Linked DNA regions of Homo sapiens: all the other regions are linked to region 4. Evidence: fine-mapped expression QTL. A gene starts in region 4. Each other region holds a variant in brackets. All regions are shown on one strand. Distances are between the middles of the regions. Region 1 overlaps CHST11 (carbohydrate sulfotransferase 11). Region 2 overlaps CHST11 (carbohydrate sulfotransferase 11). Region 3 overlaps CHST11 (carbohydrate sulfotransferase 11). Region 4 holds the start of CHST11 (carbohydrate sulfotransferase 11). Region 5 overlaps CHST11 (carbohydrate sulfotransferase 11). Region 6 overlaps CHST11 (carbohydrate sulfotransferase 11). Region 7 has its middle 170 kb from the start of MIR3922.

Region 1 (4,077 bases), 300 kb before region 4:
GTGGCACCATGGATGGCCATTTAGAGAGGCATGTCATTCAGTGCCAAAAACATGGAGTTCTGAAGGCACATCAACCTGGGCTTGAATACTGGCTCTGCCACCAAAGCCATTTACTGACAGCCTTCATGCCTTTTCACACGAGTGGTGGAACTGTGTGATCACAGTGCACCTTCTAATGCATTAGTCTACAAAGACTTTATAGAAAAAATGGAAAGAAGAAAAGCTTCCATTCACCCGATGAACAGAAAGAATTTGGATCTATGGCGGTTTTTACCAGGGCTGAGTCTTCCAACGAAGCCTGCATCTCCATCCTTTGATACACATGAGCAGGGCCCCCCGCATGCTAAGGTCCACGGCCCACCCCACCCCTACAGTCTTTTGTTAATGAGCCATGAGCAAACCATACACAGAAAGCAGCTTCTTTTTTCTTCAATTTAATTGAAGTTACTTAGAAAAATAATCAGGCTTGAATGGCTTTTCCTGGAGGAAGGTTCATGAACATTTTCACGCTTTTGTTGGCAATGTGGAATTCAGCTTTCTTTAACAGTACAGCAAGATACAGGGAGCGTTTTCTACAACAGGCTCTCTACTGCATACAAATATGTGAAAAAAGAAAATCACACTCCACAAAGATGTGACATTACATGTCCATATGCCATACTGAGCATGCTCATAAGAAAGTAGTATGGGCAGCTCCTTCTGGACCTAACAAAGTGTAGCAGACTGAAATTTGCCTGTTATCAGCCAAGGGTTAAGCGGATTCTAGAAGGCCTTGTTGCCTGTAGGGTTCTAACTGGTTGTGATGGAAAAAGGTTGGAGGAAATGCTGGTGGTGGGAACTCGGGGGAGTGATGTGGTCAGTCCTGCTGACATAGAGGTGGGCAAGGAAGGGATTTGGTCACTGGGATTGCACAGAATGGCGCAGCTGAGATTGTGTGTGTGTGTGTGTGTGTGTGTGTGTGTGTGTGTAGGGGAGGACTGGCTAGGAAAGCAAGCAGAGTGCCTCTGCTTCTTCTGCCAACTCTATCTCAGCACTGATCCAGACCCCACCAGCCAAGCATTTGTGGGACCCGCACACTTTGCTCTGGAGCTTTCTAGTAGCCTGGATTAATCGACCCCTGTGCTTCATGCCTTTGCCACCAGGAGAACCAGTGCAACTGAAGTTTCCACTGCCTGCTGCTCTCCTGTGGCATCCACATCCTGAATAGGCAGGAGGGTGCAGCCCACCTGGTGCACAGGGAGGAGGAGGAACGTCCCCTCTGAGATACCACAGGTCAGCAGACCACCTCTTCCCAGACCAGCTGGGGAGGGCAGGGAGGCGGGGTCTGGAGGAGCTGCGGGAATCATCTAGAGCTTTCCAACCAAAGGGATAAAGTAAGCAGGAATGTCCTTGCAAATACTGCCCTGGCTGTACCTGGTCTTTAAAACACAGCAGCACCTTTGAGAAGTGGCTGGGAGATGGGACGCCTGCCTGTACTTTTCTCCAGCTAAGCATGCATAGAAAGCAGTTTCAAATATTCCTCTTTAAAAAACACAAACTTTCATTTTCCAGGCACACTTCACAAGTGGATTTCTTTAACCAAGGACACAGAATACTTTCTACATTCTGCAAAAACAGTTGAATCCATTTTTTTTAAAGTTTCAATGCCATTAGAAAAGAAAATGTGAACACAAAGCAAAACACGGGGAGAAAGAGTCCCTCATTCCAGAAACCTATTGATGTCATGTCCCCTGAAGGACAATCTTTCTCACTTAAGAGAGAGAAGCCAGATGAAAGGCCATCTTCACATGACAGTGAGCAGGCTTGCACAACTGACCAAAGACGGACACAGAAATGCAAAGCAACGTGAATTTCCATTGAAAACCCCCCAAAAAGCACACAGTGAACGATTCCAAACTATGAAACTGAAGAAGCACTCATCAAGAGATCATCTGTTCCCACTGAGCATCCTTTTGAGCCTGAGGAGTAGGGAGCCACCCTGGGCCCTATACCCCACTCACCCTCTCCTCTCTTCCTTCTGTCCACACCACCCAAGACTTCCTCCACTCCCTCTGGGAGGGAT[A/G]GAATTGTAGTCCGTGGCAGTATCCAGGATTAGAACCATTGCTTCATTAAATAAAGTACCTCTGTTGCTATAAACCAGATGGAGACTGTGGTGCTATTTTGTATTTTTTTTTTAATGGAAGGGTGTTGGGGTGGCAGTTTTTATCCTTGAAGACCTCAGATATGCTAAGTCAACCTAAGCAAAGTATACTCGGTGGAACCCTAGCTCTGTGGGGTGATCTGCAAAATAGAGTATCCTGGTCATGTAAGTTCAGGAAATGCTACAGACTCAAGGATTATTTTTGGGGATTCACCATGCACAGCACACATTGAAGGCTGAAAAGTCCTTGCAGAAAGGAAACTGACTTAACTTTGTTTCTTAAGGATATTTGACCACAAAACCCTTAGTCTGCATCACACCAACCTGATGCCTCCTGGAACCTGTGTTCTGTAGAATGCGTATTAGAAAATGTTGGACAACCTGTTTCATTATCAGAAGTCCCATTTCTGAGGACAGTGTTCTCTGCCTGGAAATAAGGTCCAGATTCTCAATTCCAGGGACAGCCAAGGTCTGTCACTCTACCCAGTAAAACACATTGCGTAAATCTCCATCCATCAAGGGTATAGTTGCTGCGCCCTTCACAAAGGGGAGAGAGCTCGGAAGAAGGTACACAACGTTTTATAAATAGCTTCAGCTACCTTCTCCGGCCCACATCTCACTCACGTTAAATAAAATAATTTCCCCGGTGAGATGTTGCAGCTGCTGCCCACTGAGCTTGCTGTGAGCTTTACAATACAATCTTAATAGTTTCTGTGAATAAATTATTCAATTTTTGTTTGTTTAGAATATCCTCACCCCTTCACTATATACGGCATCAAAAACAAAACAAAAGGCAAAACTTACCCACACCCCATCCCACCCTCCCCTATTATTAAAACTATTATTATTATTATATACAGTAGCTGCTACCAACTCATTCACTAGCTGTAAGAGGGATGTGGCTCAAACTTCAACTGAGAAGCATCAGCAATGGCTGGAAATGAGAAGCATGTTTAGATGTTAATTAGCAAGGAACAGGAAATGAAAAGTTTCCAGGCTTCCAGAGGAAATGGGGCATGGATTATGGAAGGCTGTCCTTGCTGCTCATGCATGGCAGTTACCAAGATGCTGATAGTCTTTCAGCCTCTGGAGGACGTGAGAGGGTGTGCATGTGTGTATGTGTACAAATAGTCCACCTCTGACCTTCATGAGGGGTAAAAACCATTGCAAATCCCCAAGTGTACGAGTCTCACCTTGGCATTTCACACTTGTACGTGGCAAGCAGTAGAAGACAACACTTCTACATGGGGATGTGGTGCTAGGCTGAATGGAGATGACAGTAGGAGGCACTTGAGGAGTGTTCCCCTTTCCTCACCCAAGGCAGACATTGCTAATCAACCACAGCACTCTTCCACACTGTGCCTGGAGAATCCATTCTGGGGCTTAAAGGCAGACATTACCCATCAGTTGGAGCAGGCACATGATAGGACACATTTTTTTAGCATCTTTTCTGTTGGTCAGTGAGCTTGGGATCACTCACGAATATAAAGTGGCCTGCTCCGAATGTGAGGTTTTCAAATATGGGCCATAGAAAAATGTAAATTTGTAGGGGTCATGGACCTTCTGCTGTTGCTCATGAATAGTCCAAACCTCATGTCAAGTCCATGAATAATATCAGGGGTTTGCTAATTGTCGAGCTGGATGCTCTATGTCACATAAAGCTTTTTGAGGGCCAAGACTATTGGGTTTGTTCAACGCTCTATCTTCAGGGCCTAGTATATAGTAGATGCTCAATAAATATTTGTCGAATATAAAGCAATAGCCACTTCACCTTCACTGCAACTGGCACCGCCAGTTTAAAATTCCTGTTAAAAAAGCCTATTCTATCAGATTGCTAATTCTGGTGAAAAATTGTTACAACCAACTTTCTCCTTGGGTTAAAAAAAAATCACATTTCTTTAGTGCAAGGGACTTTCAGGTCGATTGGAATTGGTTTG
Region 2 (4,077 bases), 36 kb before region 4:
TCTGAGAAAATGGGGAGTTGTTGTTTGCTTAGTGGGTACAGCATGTCAGTTTCGCAAAACAAAAAAGTTCTGGAGATCTGTTGCACAACAGTATGAATATACTTACCACTGCTGACCCGTACTCTTAAAAAGGATTAAAATGGTAAAGTTTACATTGTGCTTTTTTAACCACAATTTTACATTTTTAAAATTATTTTTAAAAATCTACCCACAAAACAAAACACCCTGAATTGTTTAAGTGTTTTACAAAATGAACTCTAGATGCCTCCGAGTCAATCAGTGAGCCCGCACCCCACCCCACAGTTATTATTCTGAATTCGTGGTGACTTACAGAGCTAATACGCCTACGACATTGTTCTGAGAAGCGCTGGAACCCATCCTCGGCAGTCAGCTGCTAGCAAGAGGATCAAGATCAGAGAAGTTTTGTGAAGTTAACTTTAAAAGGAATATTCTGACTTAGAACGGATTCTATTTTAATGCTTTGAGACAAAAATCCTTCCCCTGGGAAACTGCCTCCAACTCACTTGTCACATCCTCAGAAGTGGAGACCCTGTTTTTCATTTCTGAGATGTTATCACTGAGACATTCAAATAAGAGCAGTGTTGAAGAACAGTGACATGTGATGTGGTGGCTTTAAGGCAGTGACGGGCTATAGACACTAAGAGGCCAAGGCCAGAGGGGTCAGCTCACAAGCTCACAAGCTCCTGCCTTTGCTTCGTGGTGCAGGCTCTGTCTCTCATCGGCACGGCATCTCTTCAGAGGGGATCTCCTTGGAGATTTGGGGAAATCAGCTCAATTTTGTCACCCAGCCTGTAGTCCCAAGTCCTCGTGACTGTGGATGGGCCAGGAATGTGGCTTCACATACAGACATCTTGTTAGGCCAGGCACGGTGGCTCACACTATAATCCCAACACTTTGGGAGGCCAAGGCAGAAGGCTTGCTTGAGCCCGGAAATTCAAGACCAGCCTGGACAATACAGTGAGATCTCAAAAGATTACCCAGGCATGGTGGTGTGTGTGTTTAGTCCCAGCTACTTGGGAGGCTGGGGTGGGAAGATCACTTGAGCCCAAGAGATGGAGGCTGCAGTGAGCCAAGATGGTGCCACTGCACTTCAGCCTGGGTGACAGAGCAAGACCCAGTCTCAAAAAACAAAACCGAACACCCTGCTGCTGCACATGTGATACCACAGGCAGCATCACACCCACTGATGAAATGTGTCCGAAGGGACGGCCCTCCACAAACTGTAAATGTGTCTTTCTACATCCAAGTCTCTCTTGTCTTTCCGTGCCTACCAGGGTGAGTCACTTTGAGCATTTGCCTGAGCCAGAGTTGAGGGAAGGGTAGAGACGGCAAGGAAGGAAGCTTTGATGGAACGCCTTCAGGCCTTCAAACTCTCCCTCCATTTCCCACTTCTGAGGCATTTGACACACATTCGCATACACTATTTCCACCCCTCTCACCAGGACATGTCCAAAGCCACTGGATTAGAAGCCACAAAATGTACTTCATTCACCAACGAACCCTCAGCACCTGGCACCTCATAGGTGCTCTGTTAAGGGAATGACAGGTGTACTTCAAGAACACCTATGTCTATTAAAGAGCAAATTAAGTAGCCCAAGGCCTACCTGGTTCCAGGGCAAAAACATTCTCTTCCACATCCATCATCTGATGAGAAAGCAATAAACATCTTGCCACATTACTGGATACCAGCTCCAAGGTAAACACTAGGATCAGCGGCTCCTGCCTGAATGTGAATGGCTGAGGCCATCTGCATTGCTTGCAAACCACTGAGCCATCGTGCACCATTTCCATTAGTTTTATTTCACTTTCCGATCTTTTTTTGGTCAAAAACATCTGACCTCACTGACAGTAGGAAACACAGCTATAGGTAAGTGTGCATTTCATTTCCACTTCATTTTCCTCAGTTACGTCCTGGATTTTTTTTTTTTCCTGAGACTGGGTCTTGCTCTGTTGCCCAGGCTGGAGTGCACTGGTGTGATCTCGGCTCACTGCAACCTCCGCCTCCCGGGTTCAAGAAATTCTCCTGCCTCAGCCTCCTGAGTAGCTAGGATTACAGGTGGACACCACCATACCCGGCTAATTTTTGTATTTTTTAGTAGAGACGGGGTTTCACCATGTTGGTCAGGCTGGTCTCAAACTGCTGACCTCGTGATCTGCCCGCCTCGGTCTCCCAAAATGCTAGGATTACAGGCGTGAGCCACCGCACCCGGACACATCCTGGATTCTTATTACTAAAACCTTAATCAGCTCAACTGATGTCATGTCCCATGGTAGTATCTTCAAACTGTATCTTGTTCCAGACACACAGATCAATAGCCAAAAGTGTAATCTTAAAAAGGGATCCTATTCTTTACTTG[C/T]AACTTCCAAAGGGCATTAAAAGGGATTTATTCATTTATTTAGTCAACAGTAATATTTACTAAGATTTTACTTTAGAGCAGGCAGGCACTGGGGTATGTGCCAGAGACACATAGTGAGGGGCAGAGAGACAGAAGTTCTGGCCTCAGGAACTTCTATTCTGGTTCGGGGAAATGGATGATAACAAGGAAAAAGAAGAAAGAAGCTAATTTTCAGAGAGTGATACATGCCTTTAAAATAAATAAAACACTTTGGGAGGTGGAGGCAGGCAGATCACAAGGTCAGGAGATCAAGACCATCCTGGCTAACACAGTGAAACCCCATCTCTACTAAAAATACAAAAAATTAGCTGGGTGTAGTGGTGGGTGCCCATAGTCCCAGTTACTCAGGAGGCTGAGGCAGGAGAACGGCATGAACCCAGGAGGTGGAGCTTGCAGTGAGCAGAGATCGCGCCACTGCACTCCAGCCTGGGTGACAGAGCGAGACTCCATCTCTAAATAAATAAATAAAACAGAGTGACATGGTAAGAGGAGATTCTTTGGACTGGTTGGTCAGAAGAGGTGTCTCCAAGGAGGTATACGAGCTAAGACTGACTGATGGAAATCACACAGCCTTTGGGAAGAACAGCAGGTGCAAATGACCTGAGGCAGTTTTAGAGACAGGAGGAAGATCCACATGGCTGGAGCACAGCAAGTGAGGCTGCAGGTGGTAGGGGGCAGGTCACAATGTTGAGCAAGGATTCAGTCTTGAAGAGTCTTGTGGGCCCCAGTGAGTGGTGGGAATTTCAACCCAAGTGCAATGGGAAGTGCTGAAGTGTTTTGAGAAGGGTACTGGCCGAGTATAGTAGCTCACACCTGTAATTCCAACACTTTGGGAGGATGAGACAGGAGGATCACTTGAGGCCAGGAGTTTGAGACTAGCCTGGGAACATAGCAAGACACTGTCTCTATTGAAAAAAAATTTCTTTTTTCAATTAGCCAGGTGTGGTGGCACAAACCTGTAGTCCTAGCTACTAGGGAAGCAGAGGCAGGAGGACCACTTGAGCCTGGGAGTTCAAGGCTGCTGTGAGCCAAGATCATACCACTGCACTCCACCCTGGGCAACAGAAACAGATCCCCATAATACTAAAAAAAAAGAAAAGAAAAGAAGAAGAAGAAGAAGAAGAGACTAAGGTAAAGTGGTTCTTGTTTCTGAAAATCTCATTCAGACTGCTACATAAAGAATAGATCATGGGGGGCACAGGGAGATAACTTTTATTATATAGATTTTACTTATACACTCTTGCTAAATTATCCTGTCCATCCCACCCCCGGTCACTCTCAGAAAACTCCAGATCAAATGAGATGAGTATGGTGAATAGGGCTGGCAATTAGAGGATACTCTCCAATGGTGATGAAGGGAGATGTCTGGGGGAAATCCAGCAGGATGTTGATTTAGTATGTACACAGTGAGAGGATACTTGTAGAGAACCTAGAATCTTCTCTGAATGTGACGGGCCCTCAGAGATAATTGTTAACAGATAAGTGGATGATTAAATACACTTCCTCCAGTAGGCTAGATGTTAAGACGGAGATCAAAAAAAAAAAAGCCAGAGACCTCCCCTGCCACCCAGCACAGCACCTGTTCCACAGCAGGGGCTCTGAAGTTGGAGAGAGAGAAGTGAAATGTGAGCAAAATGACAGGCTATGCCAAAGATCGCCC
Region 3 (4,077 bases), 210 kb before region 4:
ATGCAGACAGAGTCCTGGCCAGCTACCCTGGGCATAGTTTTGGGGGATGGCAAGGGGCAACGACTTATCTGTTCTGGCTCACTCCAGACCCCACCGCACACGGTACTGTAGAACGGTGAAAAAAGGGGTTATCAGACCTTGCCCCGCCTCTCTGATGAGGTACCTGATCCCAGCTCTACTGTTCCACACAGGACTTCCCTAGCTTCTCCTTCTCTCCCTTCCCTTTCCTTCCATCTTTTTTCAATCAGGAAACATTTGTTGGCCATCCACTGTATTTCAGAGTAAATCTGTATTTCAGGCATGTGGAGCCTTGGATACTGAATTTGAATACCAATGCAGCAGGACACTGGTATTATTCCATCCCATTTTATTCTTCCATCATCGCACCCTCTAGAATTCAACACGCAGACAGAGGCAAACGAGTTGCAAAAACACAGAGTCCCAAGAACAACGGAAGGAAATTGGATAGTCCTATCTTAATAAAATCTTGCTTTGGCAAAGCAGAATTCAAGGTAAAGGGGACTACAAAAGCCTGCCCACGTTTCACAATAACCCCAATCTTCTGTATTGCATTTTGGAAAACAAATAAAAATCTTTATTAAATTTCTCCATTCTCGCTTGCATCCAAAGTTGAATTGTTTTGGAAAGCTTGAGGGAAACAGTTCAGGTGTTTTTCAGGGACAGAAAACCTATACCCGTGATCATTTCAAATGCTAAGCATATTCTAAACCCCTACCAAACAGAACTTGCAATTAGTAGCAATTTAAATAAAGTATTCAATCTTAATTCTATACATGATAGTCTAAATAAGATTAAAAGAGAAAGAGGCCGGGTGCGGTGGCTCACACCTGTAATCCCAGCACTTTGGGAGGCCGAGGCGGGCGAATCATGAGGTCGGGAGATCAAGACCATCCTGGCCAACATGGTGAAACCCCATCTCTATTAAAATACAAAACATTAGCTGGGCATGGTGACGGGCACCTGTAATCCCAGCTACTCGGGAGGCTGAGGCAGGAGAATCACTTCAACCTGGAAGGCAGAGGTTGCAGTGAGCCGAGATCGCGCCACTGCGGTCCAGCCTGGTGACAGAGCAAGATTCCGTCTCAAAAAAAAAAAAAAAAAAAAAAAAAAGAGACAGAGAGAGAGAAAGAGAAAGGGAAAGAAAAAAGAAAGACCCCCACCCCCCACCCCACAAATCATGGACATTTGCTTGGCATCCAGAGAAAATTCCAAGTATGTTGTTTCAAATTTAAATGCAGAGTGTTCAAGTTTTCAATAGGCATAAAAAGTTAAAAATTAGAAATACAACTACTTACATTTATTGAACATGATGTACCCGATGCTGTGCAAAGCACTTTAGGTTGATGAACTAAGTTAATACTCAGAACCGCCCTGTGAGTAGTCATTATGATCCCAAGTTTACAGATGAGGAAAAAGAGATTCAGCTGTGATTCACACCTAGGCAGCGTGACCCCAGGATTTGCACTTGTCACTGTTACATTCAACTACCTCCATGCAGATGGCACAGTTTGAAACAAGACTTTCTGGACTATGATACATTTGTAAACGTTTTTAAGACTAGACTCTCTTCTTTTCTTCCATGCTGCTCCTTGCTCCTCCCAAAGTTCTGTTTCCCCTCAAATCCTGAGATGAGTGCTATTAGTATGCTGGCCTTTTATAGATGTAAAAATAAGCCCAGAGTAGGACAGTGACATAACCAAGGCCACACAGTACATAATAAATGGGGTAGAATCAGATCTCAGAGTCAGGCCTTTCGATCCCAAATCTCAAGGTTATTCTCATACATCTGCTATTCATCCAAGAGTGACCAGATTACCTAGAGAGGTGAAAGTGGGAAGAGGTTGGATGATGAAAGTTTATGGAGTTACCCCCTGAGTCTGCTAGCACAAGGTGAGGCACTCAGGCAGAGCACAGAGCCACTCTCTCTTCCTGAATAGCCCGGGTGTTGGCCACATTCATTACTGTAATTAACCCTCGAGGTTTGCCTCCGGGTTGAGGTTATTAAATATATTTTGGTATCTTTAAAAAAGCACATACAGCAAGTTCCATAAATTTAATAAATGGGCCTACATTGGTGACATGGAAATGTTTCCATGAAACAGTTCTTGCAATTTCATAACCGGCTCGTGTAAAACTTTAGGATGTCACTTAGGCCCATTGGAGGAATTATTTCCTTATAAATCTATGGTAGTCTTAGGAAGTCAAAATGGCACCATAAAAAGAAATAACCCCACTTCCCTGGAAAAAGGGCAGCATGCTCTGTCCGAGGAGGGGACTGGGGCTGTCTGCACTTGTAACATTTTACAGTGACTGTTGC[C/T]GGCATGGGCAGCATGCTCTGTCTGAGGAGGGACTGGGGCTGTTTGCACTTGTAACATTTCACAGTGACTGTTGCTGGCATCCAGTGAGGATGTATGCTGTTGCTGGGCTGGGCTGTGTGTTATATTTTACTGGCAAAAATAAATCTTACATTTTTACATAAAGCCGTGCTTCTCTAGAACACACCAAGAGAAAATGTGTCTAAACCTTAACAAAAAGGCCTTGCTGTCTCTCAAAGACCTAAGAAGACCACACTTAGAAAAATAAAGTCTTAAGTAATCAAAGAACATTTTTGTTAGCATCCTCATTTTTCTTTGATCGATGACATACATAAGAGTTGTGTTGAGAAACAGCTTTTTAAAAATGTTCCCGCCGCTTCACCCTCAGCTCTAAAATTCAGTTCACCTCGTGGTCTCCCTGAGTATTAGGCTACAGGCACAGTCAGCATTTCGCGGTTTATAGAAGAGAGGTGATATACAGTTCCTACCCTTGAGATGCCTCCACTGTAAAGGGAGGAATTATCTGCTAGATAGCTCGCTGGAAGTAATCAACTCCATAGTGAAGAAATAAGATGGAGGTCCCTATCTCATGTCCAGGGCAGATGGAAGTTCTGGATGGAGACTGGTACCCTAGTGGACAGGGGCTGCTGAAATTATGTATCTGTGTTTTTATCAGCAGACACAATGCCTGGCACAGCCTAATTGCTCCATACATGGATGGATGGATGGATGGATGAACAGATGGATGGGTGGAAGAAAGGGAACAAGAATAACAAAGTCACCCTTGGGAACTTGTTAATAAAGTACCTTAAATGGGCTAAAGAAAGGGGGAAGGGCATTCTTATTATGTCAGTGCCCTTGAAATGACATTAAAGCGACCCAAACAGAAATGCACAGCTCTCTACAACGGCACAATGCACTTGGGCAAACCATTCCTAGTAAGATTTTTTTAAATTAGGGTTGGTCTGTATGAGCCCCCTTTGAACACCAGTCTAAGCAAAGCAGTTGAATGTTATGGAGAAAAACTGCTCAAAAATGACACATGAATAAAAACAGGTTACCAAACAATATAAGCTAGGAGTATTCATTTTTTAAAAAATACAAACATGAATATCAGAGAAAAAGTCTGGAAAGATATTTATCAAAATTGTTAGCAATGATTATCTCTGGGTGGTGGATTTGCTGGTGATTTTTACCTTATTCATTTGACTTGCATTTATTTTCTATACTTTCTATACTAAACAAGTATTTGTCTCATACCTACAAAAAAAAGTTTAAAAATTGCAAGAAATCTCTGATGATGCCAGAGAAGAAAAAGTATTCACAAAACAAACCCACTGAAATCAACCTTAGCGAAATCACAGATTCAGTAGAACGTCACGAGATGGAAGTCGCACGGAGGTGAGGATGGAGTAGGTTAGACAGGGCTCGCCCAGGCCTCTGGAAGGAAGCCTTGTTGCACTGACCCAACACAGGCCAGCCTGCTGGATCCTCCCGGGTGCTCCCTAGTCTTTGGCCCAATCCCTCGGGGCACTCCCCATTTTTCTAGGGGAACAGTTGGTGTTTGTTTTTCCTTTGTCTGTGGTGAGGAACAGCTGTACAAACCAAATCACATTAAATAAATTAGTGGCACCTGAGTGGGCTCCGTGGCACAATTTCTAATTCACACAATGCCTCCAGTTTTGCTATTTCAACTAAATCATTTATCAATTCCTTCACGGAGGTCAGTAAATCTCAGCAT
Region 4 (4,000 bases):
AACAACTGCTCCAGACCGAGTGGGGCAAAGGGGCCGTCTGTCCCTGCGCTGTCAAGGAATCTGCAGCCTGCAGCCCTGCCTGTTTGATGGAAAGAACAGCTTTATTCCTCTGCCATCGACCCAAACGCAGGCTTGATGAATTCGGGACTGCGTCTGTTTAAAGTGTTAGATACACAGTGAAAGGAGAAGGCGGGAGGCAAAAATGAAAAACACCAACCCCACTTCCCTGGAAGGAAATGCGTTTCCACCTCCCTCCTCCTTGCAATTAGAAAAGCAAATTATTGCTGTGACTACGCTGAGAAAGGCAACTCGGAGGCGTAGAAAATGGATTTCTGAGCCAACGTGGCCCGGCAGGGGGCTGCTAAGGGAGGGTAAAAGGGAGCAGGGGAGCCACGGCTTGGCGGGGAGACCCGCGTTACCCGGAAGGCTTCTCGGAACGTTCTACCTGTTGGGCTTCGCAGCCGAGCTGCTCACCCCCGGCCGCCGCGCTCGAGGGCGCCCCTCCCTCTCCAGAACCCAAACTTTCCCTCGCACCCCTAGGAAGCGACGAGCCTCGTCCCTCCCCCAGTCCAGATTTCGGACGTGGAACTTTGCCTGAGCCACAAGGGACCGGAGGAATGGGGTTCATTCCCACGCCGCCCGGGGGATTCCCGTTGCTCGGATCCCAGAAGTGGGGGATGCAAACGGACGGTCAGCCCAGGACCTGGCCAAAGTTTCCTCCAAAACTGCAGTGGTCAAGGCGTGACCCAGGAGCTCGGAGTTTCCAGCTCAGGGCTGGGGGCTGGAGCAGGCCCCGGGGCACCAGCCGCAAGGTCACTGCGGAGCCGGACCCCGGGGGCAAACGGCCGGCGCGTGGTGGAGGGGCAACGCTGGGCACCCGACCACTCTCCACACCTGCTCAGCTCTGCGCGGAGCCCGGGACACGTGGGAGCCCAGTCCCGGGCTCCCAGCCTGCTGCAGGGACTCGCAACCTCGCCGGGGCGTACACCCTTCGCCCCCGGCCCGGCAACCAGGAAGAGGCGGCTCGCCCGGGCGCAGAGCAGCCGGCTCCGGGTAACTCTTTCATCCTCCGACCTCGGCAGCAGCAGGGAGGGAGTTTCGTTCTCCTCAAACCAGCCCCTCACCCCCGGTTGCTTCCCACACCTCTCCGTTTCCCTGCTACCTCGCAGACAGACAGACAAGGGACACAAAGAAAAAAAGAAGAAGAAAAAAAAAAAAAAAAAAACTACCGCCCCTCCTGGTCCCATCCTCCAGCCCGGAGCCGGTAGGAAGAAGAGGGCGAAGCACACCTTCCCTTCTCCTCCCCATCCCGACGCGGTGACCCGGGTAGATCTGGGCAGCCAGGAGCTCTGGGCAGCCAGGAGCCCCGAAGAGGCCGAAGGCGGAGAGGTAGGGTTGGAAGAGGCAGAAATCAGGCGGAGCGAGCTAGAGCGCGAGAGAGAAGAAAATATCCAACAAAACCACGCTAACGCGCCCCCTACCTGGGTGCAACATACTTTGGAAATAGAAGATGACCAGGATAAAGGATCCCAAGCAAGTGGCCAGCACCATCCGGCAGATTCTGTTCATCCTCATCACTTCCAGCAGCGCTGGCTTCATGGCTTTGTCCTGGCTGCGGGGACCGGGGTGTCCGGGAAGCGCGCCCGGGGCGCAGGAGCAGGGACCCCGCCGCGCGGACCGGAGCCCGGGAGGCGCGGGGCAGAGCTGAGCAAGGCTCAGAGGGAGGATCGGAGTCGCTTCGCGGCCGCTCTCGGAGCCCCCAGCCCGGGCAGGGGTGTGGAAGGTGCCGGAGTTGGTCTGGAAGTGCTGAGATGCGTGGACCCGCTGGCTGCGCGCTCCTGCTCCTCCTCCTCGCCGCTCCGCCGCCTCCTCCGATCCCGCCGGCGGCCGCCGCTGCCTGGTCGCGGGCCGGGCGGCTGGGGTGCGAGCGGTGATGGTGGTGCCGCCGCCGCTGCCGCTGCGCTGGCCGCTGTGGCTGTCCGACGGGCCCTCTCCCTTCTCTCCAAAGGCTACTTCATTGCGCTCCAACGATCTATATATTCCGGGGCTGGGTTTTACCAAATGCAACTCGCGGCCCCCGGCGAGGGGAGGGCGCCTGCGGAGAGCCGGGAGGAGGGAGGGACCCTAGCGCCGGGGCGGAGCGTCGCGCTCCCCCCGCCCCTACCCGGGATATGGTCGCGTCCAGCTGTTGCCCGGGGAGTGCGGTGTGCGCGCCGCGCTCCCGCAGGGTCCCAAAAGCCCTCAGTCCCCGGCCGGGCTCGGCCGCCGTCTGGAGGTTGTGTCAGCGTTTCCATGACAAAACCCGGAGGAAAAAAAGACGAAGAAAATCGCCTCGGTGCTGCCACCCACCCCCGCCAGCGTTTGGAGAGGGAAGTGGCAAGCAGCGGGCTGGGTCTCGGAGGGAAGAATTAAGGGTTAGGGGGTTTCTGGTGGCTGGCAATTATTTAAAATCCCTGGGCGACGTAGCGGGGAAGTTGCCCCAAACCCCCAGGGAGCGAGTGCCCATTTTCCGACGCTCAGAACTGGGCGGTTTCGTTTTTCTTTCAAAGGACAGCCCAGCTTGGGAGTCGGGGTTAAAGAGGGCTGACTTAAAGTCAGGGTTAAGGAAACTGCACGACCCTCGGGTCAGGCGACAGCTGAGCTTTCCCGGGGACTTATACAGACAGAATCTCTGACACCCACCATCACCACCATTCCTCAAGGCAAAAGGGATCTGTGGGTTGCAAAACTCTGCTACCCCAAAGGGTAGAGCATCCTCCAAATTATTCAAAATTAACAGCAGTCTTAGCTGGGAGGGGGTGAGAAAATGCCCCTAGGAAGCCACCTCAACCAAGTCCAGAAAACTGCTGGAAAAGCCAAGCCAGCCATAGCACTGGCAGGTACATGGAAAGATGGTGCTGCTTTCTTGTATTGTGTAGAATGACTTCCAGTTTCCAATTCCATGCATTTAGGCTGTTTCACAATCAATAAAGTGGACACAGCCAATAGTGTAGGGATCACTCGTATGTCAGGGAAAAAAAAAATGTTAGTTAGACTAACCTTTGTGCCTTATCAAGTCATTACTAATTCAATTAAAAATGAAATAAGATACTGTGTCTTTCAATGCCTCTCACAAAATAGGCATTTGATAAATTCTTATTGAATCTGAATGTAATGGGCCTTATCCTCCCCTCGATAGACAGAGACACAACTTGCAGTTAGACACATGCAACAAAAACCACCTGGGCAACCTCAGTTCCCTTCCCCCAGAGTTCTCCTCCAGCAGTTGCATGGTGGGGAAAGTAACAAACTCAGCAGCCTTGCCTTTGATTACAGAAGACAATCAAAGCACAATATTTATGTAGCCGGTGTGCGCTGTATTAATTTGGACTTACCTGTGAATAAGTTGCTTGCTCAAGGAAGCCAGGCTGAACAAGCTTCAGACAGAGTCGTTCTCCAGTGATTCTTCTGCTCTGGTGATAGGAGATCAGGAATGGGAGTTGCACTGCACCCTCCCCACCTCCCCACCATCATCACTAAGAAAGGGGATTCCTTGCAGAGGGCATGGCTTAGATGGGCATTTGCACAAAGCCTTTGCCTGGAATATAAGTCTCTCATTTAACACTTGGCTTTACAGAGCCAGGGAGGGGAAGGGATTTACTCCCAGGTCACCCAAGTGACCTCTCACCTCATAGGCCAAAGACTTCAGTTACCTGCCCCAAAGCCTGGACATGCACAAGGCAGTTTGGGAAGTCACAGGGTCAAGGAAGAGATCAGAAGTCCAATTCCCTGTGAGTCACAGAGATCATGGAGTTGGCCCACATGGTGGGGGAGGATGGTGAATCATGCCCAACATCCATTCTTGCATTCCCACAATCAGGAACCTGCCCAAACACAGTGAGGATTAAGGCTGTGACACATAAGCTACCACCTCTCCCAAGAAGTCTTTGCTGTTTTCTCACCTGAAATTGCAACTTTCCTCCTCTGCGCTGTGAGCACTAGGTCCAAACCTCTTTTGGGC
Region 5 (4,071 bases), 25 kb before region 4:
TCGCAGACAGTAGTAGAAACAAACAGACTGTAGAGTCAAGCAGGCCCAGGTTCAGATCCTCCCTGACCCCAGCAGCAGACCCTCTACTTGCAGAAGCTACAGAGACTACGTCCCCACCTTTGCCTCCAGCCTCCTCCACCAGGCCAGCTTCAACAGCAGGTAAGAAGAGCCACAGTCCTCCCCGACCCCAGGCCTCACCTGGGTCATTCATCTACTCATCTGTTCCTTTCACTCACCCAATAAACAAACTCACTAAGGGGGCGTACTGAGGAATAAGTACACGTGGAGCTTGTGGAGCAGAATACTGAAGAAGAGACATAAAACAAACTCAGGTACCCCTTACTCTCCAAAAGCAGGAACCAAAGAGATGCAGGTAACATTGGGGAGTTTGTATCTGAACTCTCTTCTCTTATTATCCAAAATTGGCAGGCTGAATGAATCACATCCTGAGGGATTGCTGCATGGACAAATGGAGTGCAATGAAAAAAAGTCAAAGTGCATGGGGAGGCCGGGCACGGTGGCTCACGCCTGTAATCCCAGCACTTTGAGAGGCCGAGGCAGGCCGATCACCTGAGGTCAGGAGTTCAAGACCAGCTTGGCCAACATGGCAAAATCCTGTCTCTACTAAAAATACAAAAATTAGCCGGGCATGGTGGCTGGCACCTGTAATCCCAGCTACTCGAGAGGCTGAGGCAGAAGAATCTCTTGAACCCAGGAAGCAGAGGTTGCAGTGAGCTGAGATCACGTCACTGCACTCCAGTCTGGGCGACAGAGCAAGACTCCATCTCAACAAAAAACAACCAAATGCATGGGGAGAGACTGTAACCAAGGGACCTGCCTTCAGGAACTGGGATGTGAAGGGTGTGGAGAATGGATGGGGTGTGAAGGGTGAGCATGTGAAGATGCAGGAGTCCAGTTTTGGAGATATTGCACCAGGAGGCATGTGGGTATCAATGAACTACATGAAAGGATGTCCAAGTTGTTCTTAAGTAGAGCCAAGGTTAGAAACCTTGAATCTGTGGTGACCCGAATCAGCACTGTTTCAGACAGGATGACTTTCTCCCATGCTGACTCCGGGCCAAGTCTATGAGAACCACCATCTGTTCCAAAAAGTAAGCAGAGACTTCAGACGTGAAGCCACTAAAAGACAGAAGAAGTGGGGACATTTTTAAGACATTAAAGTCTTAAGTGGGGGGATGCACAGACTCTGGAGTGAGTTGGGACCGAGTTGAAATCTGCAACCTTGGGTAAGTGGAATGAGTTCTCTGAGCTGCTGTCTTTGTCCAGGTAACATGTACCTTATGAGGCCGTTGTGAGAATTTGAGGCAATGTGTGTGAAGCTCCGGGCACACACTAGGTCCTCCATAATTGTCAGCTCTTATTACAACAACTCCTACCTTGCTCAAAGGACCAAAATCTTGTCTCATCGATCTAAGCAAGCAGAACCACGTTGGAGTTCTGTGAGCCTTTCCTCTGTGGGAAAAGCCAAAATGACACTGAGGGTGGGGAAAGGGAAGGGAGGCAGTGGCCACATGGTCTAGGAAAGTGGTGAGCCCACTTGCCTAAAAAATAAAGCCATGTGGATGTAAAGGATGTGCCTAAACTTAAAAGAAGTAAACACCAGCTGCCCATTTGACATGGCCTCCTTTCATTTTTGCGGGGGGGGGCTCCCTGTTTGATGTGGCTCTGGGGCCCAGCAGCCCCAGGTGGCAGAGCAGCCTCCACTGGCTCGTAAATACCCAGGGTTACCCCAGATGACACACCGTCTTCAGCAAAGAGAAGGGATGGGGGAAGGC[G/A]AAAGGAAGGCAGAAGGTAGTGAGGAATAGGAAAAAAAAAAAGAGCCATACATTCTTTATATCAGCAACAATCTATCCAAAAATAAAATCAAGAAAACAATCCTGGGGAGGCTGAGGTGGGTGGATCGCTTGAGGTCAGGAGTTTGAAACCAGCCTGGCCAACATGGTGAAACCCTGTCTCTACTAAAAAATATATATATATACAATAAAATTAGCCAGGCATTGTGGCGGGTTCCTGTAATCCCAGCTACTCGGGAGGCTGAGGCAGGAGAATTGCTTGAACATGGGAGGTGGAGGCTGCAGTGAGCCAAGATCATACCATTGCACTCCAGCCTGGGCAACAAGAACAAAACTCCAAAAAAAAAAAATGCAAGAGAAAGGAAGGAAAAGAGGGACGGAGGGAGGGAGAGAGGAAGGAAGGAAGGAAGGAAGGAAAGAAGGAAGGAAACAGTCCTATTTACAATAACATCAAAAAGATATTCTTTTTTCAAGTCATAGACGAGTAAATACTCTGTTCACTTGGATGAGACATTTAGGTATCAGAAACCCCAAAGCCCTCTCCAAAAATGCCTTCCCTTTCTTAGCCAATCTTTGCCATATCTGATATCGTTGCCCCCCATCGACGCGTGAGAGAATCCATGACCGCTCCCTACAGAAGGAAGCCACCAGCTGGAACAGTGGGCTCAGGTGACTGCACCCAGGTTTGGTTTTTGAAACCATTTCTTTCAGTGGCTTAAAAAGCTGGGCCAAATTCTAAAAATTGTAAAGTATGACAGTAGATTACTTTTTTTAAGTGATAACTTATTCCAGCGCACCCAACTGGGAAGGCCAATACGAGGAAGCAACATTAAACGGGACCTGAAGGAAAAGCACGCCAAGCACAGGGAACGGCAAGTGCAAAATTCGTGACGTGGCAAGAGTGTGGTGCTCATAAGGCACTGAAAGAAGGCAGAGTGGCGCAAGTCCAGCTGGGCAGGGGAACAAGGAAGTGGGACCAGGCAGGCCTCAGTGAGGCGGGACCTTGAAGTCAGGCTAAGGATTTGGGTTTCTCTTCTGGGTGCAATGAGAAGTCATGAAAGGCTGTACCTTTGCAGTGTTACAGCAGAGCAGAAAGGCAGCTCTCTTCCCATTTCATAGCTGGAAAGTACGGCACAGAGAGGTTAAGTGACCTCTGCTGAGTCACATCCCGGCACAGGGGTGAAGCTAAGAAGCCACATCCCCTGACTCCAACTGGAAAGAATCCCTACTGGGTCAAGGCAAGAAATGTGTTCCTTCAGACTGCAGTATTTTCCCAGGACTGCTATAACAAAGTGCCACAAACTTGGTGGCTTAATACAATAGAAATGTATTCCTTCATGGTTCTGGAGACCACAAGTCCAAAATCAAGATGTTGGCAGGCCCATCCATGCCCTCTCTGAGGCCTCTAGAGAAGGATCCTTTCTTGTTTCTTCCAGCTTCTGGTGGCTCCTGGCATTCCTTGGCTCATGGCAGCATCAATCCAGTCTCTGCCTCCATTATCACACGGTCTTATGTGTGTTTCTGTGTCTCTTCTCCTCTTATAATAAGGACGCTAGTCATATTGGATTAAGGGCACACTGTCCTCTAATATGACTTCATCTTTTTTTTTTTTTTTTTTTTGAGATGGAATCTTGCTCTGTAGCCCAGGCTGGGGTGCAGTGGCACGATCTCAGCTCACTGCAACCTCCGCCTCCCAGGTTTAAGCAATTCTCCTGCCTCAGCCTCCTGAGTAGCTGGGATTACAGGCACCCGCCACCATGCCCAGCTAATTTTTTGTATTTTTTAGTAGAGACGGGGTTTCACCATCTTGGCCAGGCTGGTCTCAAACTCCTGACCTCGTGATCCACCCACCTCAGCCTCCCAAAGTGCTGGGATTACAGGTGGGAGCCACTGCACCTGGTTGACTTCATCTTAACTAACTATATTTGCAATGCCCCTATTTCCAAGTCAAGTCACATTCTGAGGTTCCAGGAAGAACATGAATTTGGAGGGGGGGGCGGGGACACTATCAACTCAGTGCACTGACTAAGCAGATGTTTATGAAAGATAGGCCTGAATTCAACAGGGGCTCAGAGCACTGACCAACTAAAGTATAGAACCTTTTGCAGCAGAACTCCTGGTTGACCCCCAATATCCATTCTCTGTCTTCCTTTAGAATAAAGAAAACACAAGTTTAGCACATGACCACACGGAATGAAGACTACCTTTCCCAGCCTCCCCCACAGACATAAATGGCTGGAGCTAAGTGAGATTTAAG
Region 6 (4,077 bases), 230 kb before region 4:
AAGAATCACATAAATGTAGTTGCAATGATTAATCACGTAATTATAGTAAGTGCATGATACAAGGTTGCTGAATGAATGCATGAAAGAGAATTCAAAAGGACTTGCTCACCTCGTCTCAGCCTCACAGCTGCTGGGAAGTATGTTCTGCCCCATCTTCAACAGAGCATAACACACAAACGAGGGTCTCAGGCGTCTGCCTGCTATGGGATAGAACAGCCATTGGGCCTATCCTTGGCCATGGAAAAAGCTTCCACTGTATTTCGATTGGAAGCAAGCATGTCCACCTGAGGAGGCAGCAGGCGATTTATGGCCCTGAGGTTTCAGGTTGGGTAGGAAGGGATTCTGGCTGAGGCCAAGGTTTATTTTGGTCTTAAAAATTTCTTTTCCTAATCCTTACTCATTGCAGGCAGCTTGGAAGGAAAATGAGAAAGTCACAAAAGAATGAAGAACATCACAATAGACCATAACACCTAAAGGAAATACTGTTAATATTTTGACATTTGTCCTAGAAATGTTCTTTCACGAATGTGTGTATATAGAAAGAATTGTATCATATAATACTTATATTAAAAAGTCTACTATTTTTATTTAACAATAGCTTGTCTCCTTCACCTCCTCCTCTTGCTCCTTCTTGCCCCTTCTTGCCCAGGCTGGTCTCGAACTCCTGGGCTCAAGCCATCCTCCTGCCTCAACCTCCTGAGGAGCTGGGCCTGCAGGCTCATCACCATGCCCAGTAGCAATGGCTTGTAACTGACATCTTCCCATGTCCATAAACTTTATGCTACAACATCATCTTAAGGGCTCTATACATTTTCCTTATATGGCTGTGACAGAATATACTTAACCACACCCCTATTTTGGTTACTGTCTAGTTCCAATTTTTTGTTATTAGAAATAATACCTGTGTGAACATCCTTAAGGATCCTTAACATTTTATTTTTCACATATTTCTGAAGATTATCTTGAGAATATCTTACAGGTTTTTAAATACACGTTTCAGGTTGATGTTTTAACATTAATTTATGTTTCTAGCAAAACAAGTGAGAGGAAGAAGCAATTTATTCAGAAGACTTCCCAATACGTCAATCTAGCCCTATAGTTCAGTAGGCTCAGGGGCTCTTGAGCCTTGCTATCTGGGGCCACATCTCATTTTACCACCTACTGGCTCAGGGACTAGTGGTGAGTTACTTCTCCTTGCCTCGGTCTTCCCATCTATAAAATGGGTGGAGTGGCGCCCACCAGACAGGGTTGCTGTGAAGGTTCAACTTGTCAATCTAGACGGAAAGCATTTGTGATCAAGGATCAGAACAAGAGCTCCAGGAATCTGTCAGTACCCACCCTAACAGCAAGCTATTCATCCAGAGTTAAAATCCCACAGCAACAGTCACCTGAACACTTGTATCTCATTTTAAAATGGTCCCTATTGTTTTCCTCTGCTGCAACAGCCTGGCGTTCTTAACGCGCACACAGGGATGCCAATTTCCAGCCACACAAATGACCACATCTTTGCGTTTTCTAAGAATCAGAAGGCCCATCTGATGCCATGCAGGGAAGTGATGCACAGAAAACACAACCACACTGTTGCCAAATTCAAGTGTGAACCACACACTGGCTGAGAGCAGGAAACACAGAATAACAACCGCCACCCTCACCCAACG[G/T]CATTAAACTGTGAAATGCTGGTACGGTATGAAAACAGCTTCCCTTGTACCAGAAAACTGCATCTGGAGTATTTCTCCAGGAAATATTGTTGGTGTTACTAAAATCCAAAGCTGCAAAGGGAAAAAAAAATTTTGGGGGGGGCGGGGGCCGCTGTTTGAAACAGGATCATTCTAGGCAGGAAAGGCCATTTCTTTAAAAAAGAATCTTGAGCTAAACTGGCCTTGACATCTATCTTCTCATTTCAACTCGTAGTACCTCCTCACTTCCCAGAACCTCCTCACTGCCCAGGTCTTTGGGAAGTACCTCCTCACTGCCCAGGTCTTTGTCTAAAGACTACCCTGGAATCAAATCCTTGCCTCTGGCTTCCCAGCTATGACTATGGGCAAATTCTTAAGCTCTTTGGCCTCTTTCTTCATCTGTAAAATAAGGGCTACTGCAGCATCTACTTAATGCAGTGGTTGGACGGTGAGATGAGATAACTCAGGTAAAGCGCTTCACATGGTGTGTGGTACATAGTAAGTGCTCAATAAATGAGAACCATTGTTATTAACCATCACTATTGCTGTATTGTCCAGGATTTATACACATTTACTTAGTGCCTCTGATGTGTAAGGTGCTTTTACGAATTCAGTCAACAACCCTTGGCTTGACCACCCAAATGAGAACAAGGTGTAAAGCACTTGGATGCTAAAAAAACAAAATAGTTCCAGAAGAGCTGGTGAGGGGCATGGGCCCTGCTGACTGCCCAGTGCAACTTCTGAATCCTAGGCCCTATTGCAACCACTCTTAGCACTTGGCAAGGCCAGAAAGGTTGCTGTGTTAACTGTAGGTTTGTGGCATCTATACAGAAGGACCATGAGCCTTGGCAGTTGGGACCTGCACAATGCTCAAACCAATCCCTGTAGAGAGAGAGAGATGCAAACTGATCCAAAATATACAATTTTAAAACAAAACAAAAAGAAACAAGAATGGCCAGGTGTGGTGGCTCACACCTGTAATCCCAGCACTTTGGGAGGCTGAGGTGGGTGGATCACCTGAGGTCAGGAGTTTGAGACCAGCCTGACCAACGTGGTGAAACCCTGCTTCTGCTAAATACAAAAAAATTAGCCAGGCGTGGTGGCGGGTGCCTGTAGTCCCAGCTACTTGGGAGGCTGAGGCAGGAGAATTGCTTGAGCCTGGGAGGCGGAGGTTACGGTGAGCTGAGATCGCGCCACTGCACTCCAGCCTGGGCAACAAGAATGAAACTCCGTCTCCAACCAAACAAACAAAACAAATAAATAAAATAAACCAGAACAACAACAAACTAAAGGCTCTACTTAGCAGTTACTTTGTAACTTTTGATACAGTAGCAGCCACAGTTGCAAATCTTGTCCAGAAGTCCTACAATTTTAAATAAATAGCCAACAGGAAGTGACACATAGTAACTGAATTTGTGTGGGCCTAGTACCAGATTCAAGTTTCTCATCCTTTATTCCAGCAATCATCAACCAACTTTCTAGTCTTTACTGTCTTCTGCACCTGAGTGAGCAGAGGACTCTCTCTCAGAGCACAGCTGTCCCACATTCTGGCACCTGGAATCAGTCAGCCAAGCGCTGGATCAGCGGCTAAGCAGCTGTCCATTAGACTCCTAGGAAAAGTCAGGTCAACCCTATGAATCACTATGTTGTCTTTTTTTTTTTTTTTTTAAGAGGTGAGTTCTCCCTTTGTGATCACGTTGAAGTGCAGTGGTGGGACCATAGTTCACTATAGCCTCCAAACTCGGGCTCCAGCGATTCTCCTGCCTCAGGCTTCTGAGTAGCTAGGACTACGGGTATGCACCACCATGCCCAGCTAATTTTTTAAAAATGTTTTCGTAGAGATGAGGGTCTCACTAAGGCTGCCTAGGCTGGTCTCAAACTCCTGGCCTCAAGTGGTCCTCCCACTTTGAACTCCTAAAGTGTTGTGATTATTGGTGTAAGCCACTGTGCCCAGCCTATAGAAATGTTTTGCACGAATTTCTGGAACCATCAGAAAACACCAGAGTCTGCCAGAGAAGTCCCCAAATAGCACAGGAATAAATGGCATAAAATATTAATAATTCATGTCTCAGCAAGGGAATAGGCAGAGAACACATGTTCAGCACCAGCAGTGCCAGGAGCTGTTATTTTGACCTAACTTGCTCCAAATGAAAGTCCAGACACAATCTCTCACACAAAATTCTTCACCGGCTCAACCATAACAAGAATAGTCCCTAATAGCATTTATTAAGTGCTATTATGTGCCAAGCACCCCACATACATTAAACATATAATCCTCACAGTAGTCCTACAGGCAAGTGTTCATCTAGGTGATGGAAATGGAGCTCAACTAGGCTGAGAGACTTGCCTGAGGTCACACATTTAATGAGTATTTGAATCCCTGGTCGCCAACCCATACATT
Region 7 (4,071 bases), 310 kb before region 4:
AAGGTCAGGTTTCTCTGCCAAGTGAGCTTGCTGCAAATCTATGAAAAAACATTTCGTTTTCAGAGTTTTGTGGATTTCAGAACTGCAGATAAAGGGATGTGAAATCATTATATTTGGGCCACTGCTAAGTCACAGAGCTTTTGTGCAAATTTGACAATTCATTTTCTGGGTGGGTACAGCTTTTGGGCCCATAACTTGGCAAGTGGGGTAAGAAAAAGGCATCCAGTCCTTCAGAGTAAATGACAAATGTCAACCCCATCTTGGGCCTACCTTTGTGCAGTGCACAGCCTGCACAACCAGACACAGTGGACCTGATCATACACATCTCAGGGTTGCTGGAAGAGTAAACAGTAATGAAACATGACCCCATCTCCCAAAGCCACAGCTTCTCCTCAGGCTCTCTCTTGTGCTTAGACAGGGGCTTCTCAAATGTGAAGCATGTGAATCACCTGGGGAGATTGCTAAAATGCAGGAAGGCTGGTGTGGGGCCTGAAACACTGGGTTTCTAGCAAGCTCCCAGGTAATTTCCATGTTGCTGGTCTACAAATCACACTTTGAGTAGTAAGGCTCTAGAACCACTCCAACTTCTCCTGGATGTTTTACCTGAACCTTAATTCAGCATGTCTCATAGTTAACTGAGAGCCTTCCCCAAAACCTGTTTCTGCTCCTAATTAACTGATCTCCAATAATGGCCCCACTATCCAGCTATGGTTGCTCAAACTCAATTCGTGGCAATCCTCCTTCCCTTCTTATTTCCCTCTTCCTCACCTACATTTCCATTCAGTTACTAAAAGACATAGGTTCTATCCCAAATTAATATTTCTCCAATGTAGGGCTTTCCAGTCTCAGCATTACTGACATTGTGAACTGAGCAAGTTTTTGTTGTGGGGATCTATCCATAGGAAGGCAAAATCATTCCTGGTTGGGAGCCACTGTTCCAAACCCTCAACTTTTCTCCATCTCTCTAGCTACTGACTTGCATCACTTCTTTCCCAAGGGGAATTTGGTGTTTTGTCTTCATGCATGTGTCAACTATCCCATAACTACCCGTTAACATTTCTATGTTGTCCACTTATGAATCTTAAGAATTCGCATATTCTTGGCATCTTGCACAGGGGCTGACATAGGCAGATGCTTAATATATGTTTGCACAGATGAAGGAATGAATGTATCTCTTGACAGCTGCAGGTCCCTGGGGCTGAGATGGAGGAGGGGAAGTTGGGGAAGCTCAGAGCTCTCAGCTTACAGAGTAAGGCCTAGGGCTGTGTGCAGGGTGCTACCACGCAGAGGGAACTCTGTAGAAGAGACATCCAAAGGTGCCCTAAGACACTCCCACCTGCCATGGAGTCTCTTTCTCTTACCCTATTTTTGTCTGCCTTTCTGTTCTGCTTGGAAATGTCCTTCATTTGGGCCAAATGACTCCAGTCCCACTGCTGCTTGCCCAAGTGCATTGCATGGCAGTGTTGCTGTGTGTACAGCTGCTTGAACACAACCTTTACCCTGAATGGCTGCCCTTGGAACTTGATTTGGGGCTATGTTGGAACCTTAGGCTGGCTTGTTCTGTTAGAGCATCAGAATACTTATGGCTTGTTCTTTCCATTCAGCAGTCTCACAGCTCCCTCTGAGACCCTGATTTGAATTTCACTTTGCCATTCATTGGCTTTTATTGGAAGTCCAAGCTTTCTAAACAGTTTGTCCAAATTTGATGTTCATCAGTCCAGTAGGTTTTCCAAGCTTTTGCCAACTGGGCTAAAGTTTTCATCTCTATCCATGTCTCTTTGTAGCACCATTGGCTTCCAGGTTTAGACTTCTGGCCTCCTCCACTCTTGGTCCACCAATAACGCCCAATTTTAGTGGGCTGGAGAGTCAACCAGACCTGGATCTGAATTCTGGGTAACTTGAGGCAAGTTATTTATTCTAATTTTCTGCATCTTTATGTGTATATTAGTCCATTCTCATGCTGCTAATAAAGACATACCCAAGACTGGGTAATTTATAAAGGAAAGAGGTTTGATGGACCCAGTTCTACATGGCTGGGGAGGCCTCACAAT[T/C]ATGGGCAAAGGGACATCTTACATGGTGGCAGGCAAGAGAGAATGAGAGCCATGTGAAAGGGGAAACTTCCTAAAAACCATCAGATCTCGTGAGACTTATTCACTAACATGAGAACGGTATGTGGGAAACTGCCCCCGTGATTCAGTGATCTCCCACCAGGTCCCTCCCACAACATGTGGGAATTATGGGAGCTACAATTCAAGATGATATTTGGGTGGGGACACAGCCAAACCATATCAATCTGTAAAAAGGGTCCCAGTATCTACCTTGTTTGTTGTTTGTGAGGATTAAATTGAAAGCATGTAACACACTGTGTGGCATATAATAAACTAATAGTTAATAAAAGTTAGCTACCTTTATGGTCAGCTTTCCCTATGAAAAGATAGAATTTGGAAAAGAGCACATTAAAAGCAAACATTTCCAAGGCACCCACAGTTGAGTTTGTGTTCACTGTGCAAAGAAGCTCAGCATAAAGGTATAATTTCTATAGTCAGAGTTCCTTCTTCCTTCATCTCTTCTTTAGGCATTTTTTTTCTCTATCCTTTTGCCAGTTTGGTTCCGGGCACAAAGTTGTTTCTGGCTTGATCTATCAGATAAAGCCCAAGGCTGGTCCTAGCCACAAAATAATCTTCTCTAGCTGCTGCTGGCTTGTCCAAACCAACGTGAAATCCAAAGCCCTTACTCTTCTCCCATAATGAGATGCTCTATTATTTTTAAAAACAAACTTGGAGCCGGGTGTGGTGGCTCATGCCTATAATGCCAGCACTTTGGGAGGCCAAGGCGGGAGGATCACGAGGTCAGGAGATCGAGACTATCCTGGCTAACATGGTGAAACCCCGTCTCTACTAAAAAAAAAAAAAAGAAAAATTAGCCAGGCATGGTGGCAGGCACCTGTAGTCCCAGCTACTCGGGAGGCTGAGGCAGGAGAATGGCGGGAACCTGAGAGGTGGAGCTTGCAGTGAGCCAAGATTGCGCCACTGCACTCCAGCCTGGGTGATAGAGTGAGACTCCATCTCAAAAAAACAAAACGAAACAAAAAAGAAAAACAAAACAAAACCATGGAAAAATAAAAAGCAGATTAATACAGAGACTGTTTTTCATTCCAGTCTCTTGTATTTCAAATTAATAGGGTTTTGTACAAAGGTGGAGCCTGTGTTTCCATGGTAGAGCATTTGGAAAGAGGAGTGTAAATTTCGGTTCCCATCTTGAATCTAGCTATGAGCTATTTCTTTGCTGCATCAGCTTTTACGTTTTTTTTTTTTAAATAATTTCTATTGTTGCATCTTAATCTCTGTCTAACGCCATCCCCTTAACTCCCTTCTCAAAGCAGTTTTTACCTGCGTGGTACCATCTAACTGGTCAATCTCTTAGGCATAAAGCAGCAGAAGCCACAGAGGAGGATTCAGGTAGATCATTAGTCAAACAGGAAAGGCTCAGAGGTCACGTAACTTACTGCTTCTCAAACTGTTTTCCTTAGAACCCTATGGCCCGTGATGGTTTACAGGGACTTTATGGGAAAAAGGCAGAGCTGGGCCTCAAACCATTCAATCACAGCATCTCTGCCTCATCTGTTTTACATATGAGTGTTCAGAATGCAAAAATTTTTAAGAGGCTCATTTTTAAAAACCGCATTGAAAACCACAGATATAGCTCAATTCTTTTGTTCCGCAGATGAGGAAATGTAAGTCCCCTCCCTGCATAGGAAGTAATTACCTGTAGGTTGCAGACAGCTCCTTGGTGGATGAACTGCAGCTAGGAAAGGGTTTTCAGTCGTGGCACAATCCAGATATTATTGTTTTCCCTATTTCAAAGAGGAAGTGACTACGGGAGTTTGTTTGGGAATGGTTCTCAGCCAGCAACGCATTTGGAACCAGCAGGCTGCCTCCACTCACAACCTCTGGCTGTTTTCTCCACCTGTGGGTTCTTACAATTTGGGGAAGAGGCGGGTGCTGGTGAAGATTGTGAAATAGGGAAAAGGTGGTTGTTTTTCTCATATCAGCCTTGCTAGAATGTTCCTTT

The links.
Region 1: its variant is fine-mapped to the expression of CHST11 in whole blood (TOPMed, PIP 0.96).
Region 2: its variant is fine-mapped to the expression of CHST11 in pancreas (GTEx, PIP above 0.99).
Region 3: its variant is fine-mapped to the expression of CHST11 in sigmoid colon (GTEx, PIP above 0.99).
Region 5: its variant is fine-mapped to the expression of CHST11 in lung (TOPMed, PIP above 0.99).
Region 6: its variant is fine-mapped to the expression of CHST11 in whole blood (TOPMed, PIP above 0.99).
Region 7: its variant is fine-mapped to the expression of CHST11 in lymphoblastoid cells (GTEx, PIP 0.90).

What each region holds. Positions count from the first base shown.
Region 1 is chr12:104,758,356-104,762,432 of GRCh38, reverse strand. It overlaps CHST11 (carbohydrate sulfotransferase 11), which reads right to left. Exons shown (of 3, transcript NM_018413.6): 3 at 419-4,077. Among named protein-coding and RNA genes, the nearest start is that of MIR3922, 170 kb to the right of the region's middle. The variant A/G (reference allele first, on the strand shown) is at 2,063.
Region 2 is chr12:104,490,908-104,494,984 of GRCh38, reverse strand. The region is part of intron 1 of CHST11 (carbohydrate sulfotransferase 11); the gene reads right to left. Among named protein-coding and RNA genes, the nearest start is that of CHST11, 36 kb to the right of the region's middle. RefSeq lists enhancers at 708-897, 1,520-1,689 and a silencer at 2,774-2,977. The variant C/T (reference allele first, on the strand shown) is at 2,379.
Region 3 is chr12:104,662,867-104,666,943 of GRCh38, reverse strand. All of the region lies in intron 2 of CHST11 (carbohydrate sulfotransferase 11), which reads right to left. Among named protein-coding and RNA genes, the nearest start is that of MIR3922, 73 kb to the right of the region's middle. The variant C/T (reference allele first, on the strand shown) is at 2,339.
Region 4 is chr12:104,455,011-104,459,010 of GRCh38, reverse strand. CHST11 (carbohydrate sulfotransferase 11) reads right to left here and starts at 2,063. Exons shown (of 3, transcript NM_018413.6): 1 at 1,482-2,063. The coding sequence starts at 1,599. RefSeq lists silencers at 525-584, 745-884, 1,475-1,754, 1,795-1,964, 2,045-2,174 and enhancers at 1,275-1,324, 2,245-2,324, 2,345-2,394.
Region 5 is chr12:104,479,941-104,484,011 of GRCh38, reverse strand. All of the region lies in intron 1 of CHST11 (carbohydrate sulfotransferase 11), which reads right to left. Among named protein-coding and RNA genes, the nearest start is that of CHST11, 25 kb to the right of the region's middle. RefSeq lists an enhancer at 580-1,080. The variant G/A (reference allele first, on the strand shown) is at 1,797.
Region 6 is chr12:104,685,500-104,689,576 of GRCh38, reverse strand. All of the region lies in intron 2 of CHST11 (carbohydrate sulfotransferase 11), which reads right to left. Among named protein-coding and RNA genes, the nearest start is that of MIR3922, 96 kb to the right of the region's middle. RefSeq lists a silencer at 1,439-1,634. The variant G/T (reference allele first, on the strand shown) is at 1,659.
Region 7 is chr12:104,764,525-104,768,595 of GRCh38, reverse strand. No RefSeq gene overlaps it. Among named protein-coding and RNA genes, the nearest start is that of MIR3922, 170 kb to the right of the region's middle. The variant T/C (reference allele first, on the strand shown) is at 2,052.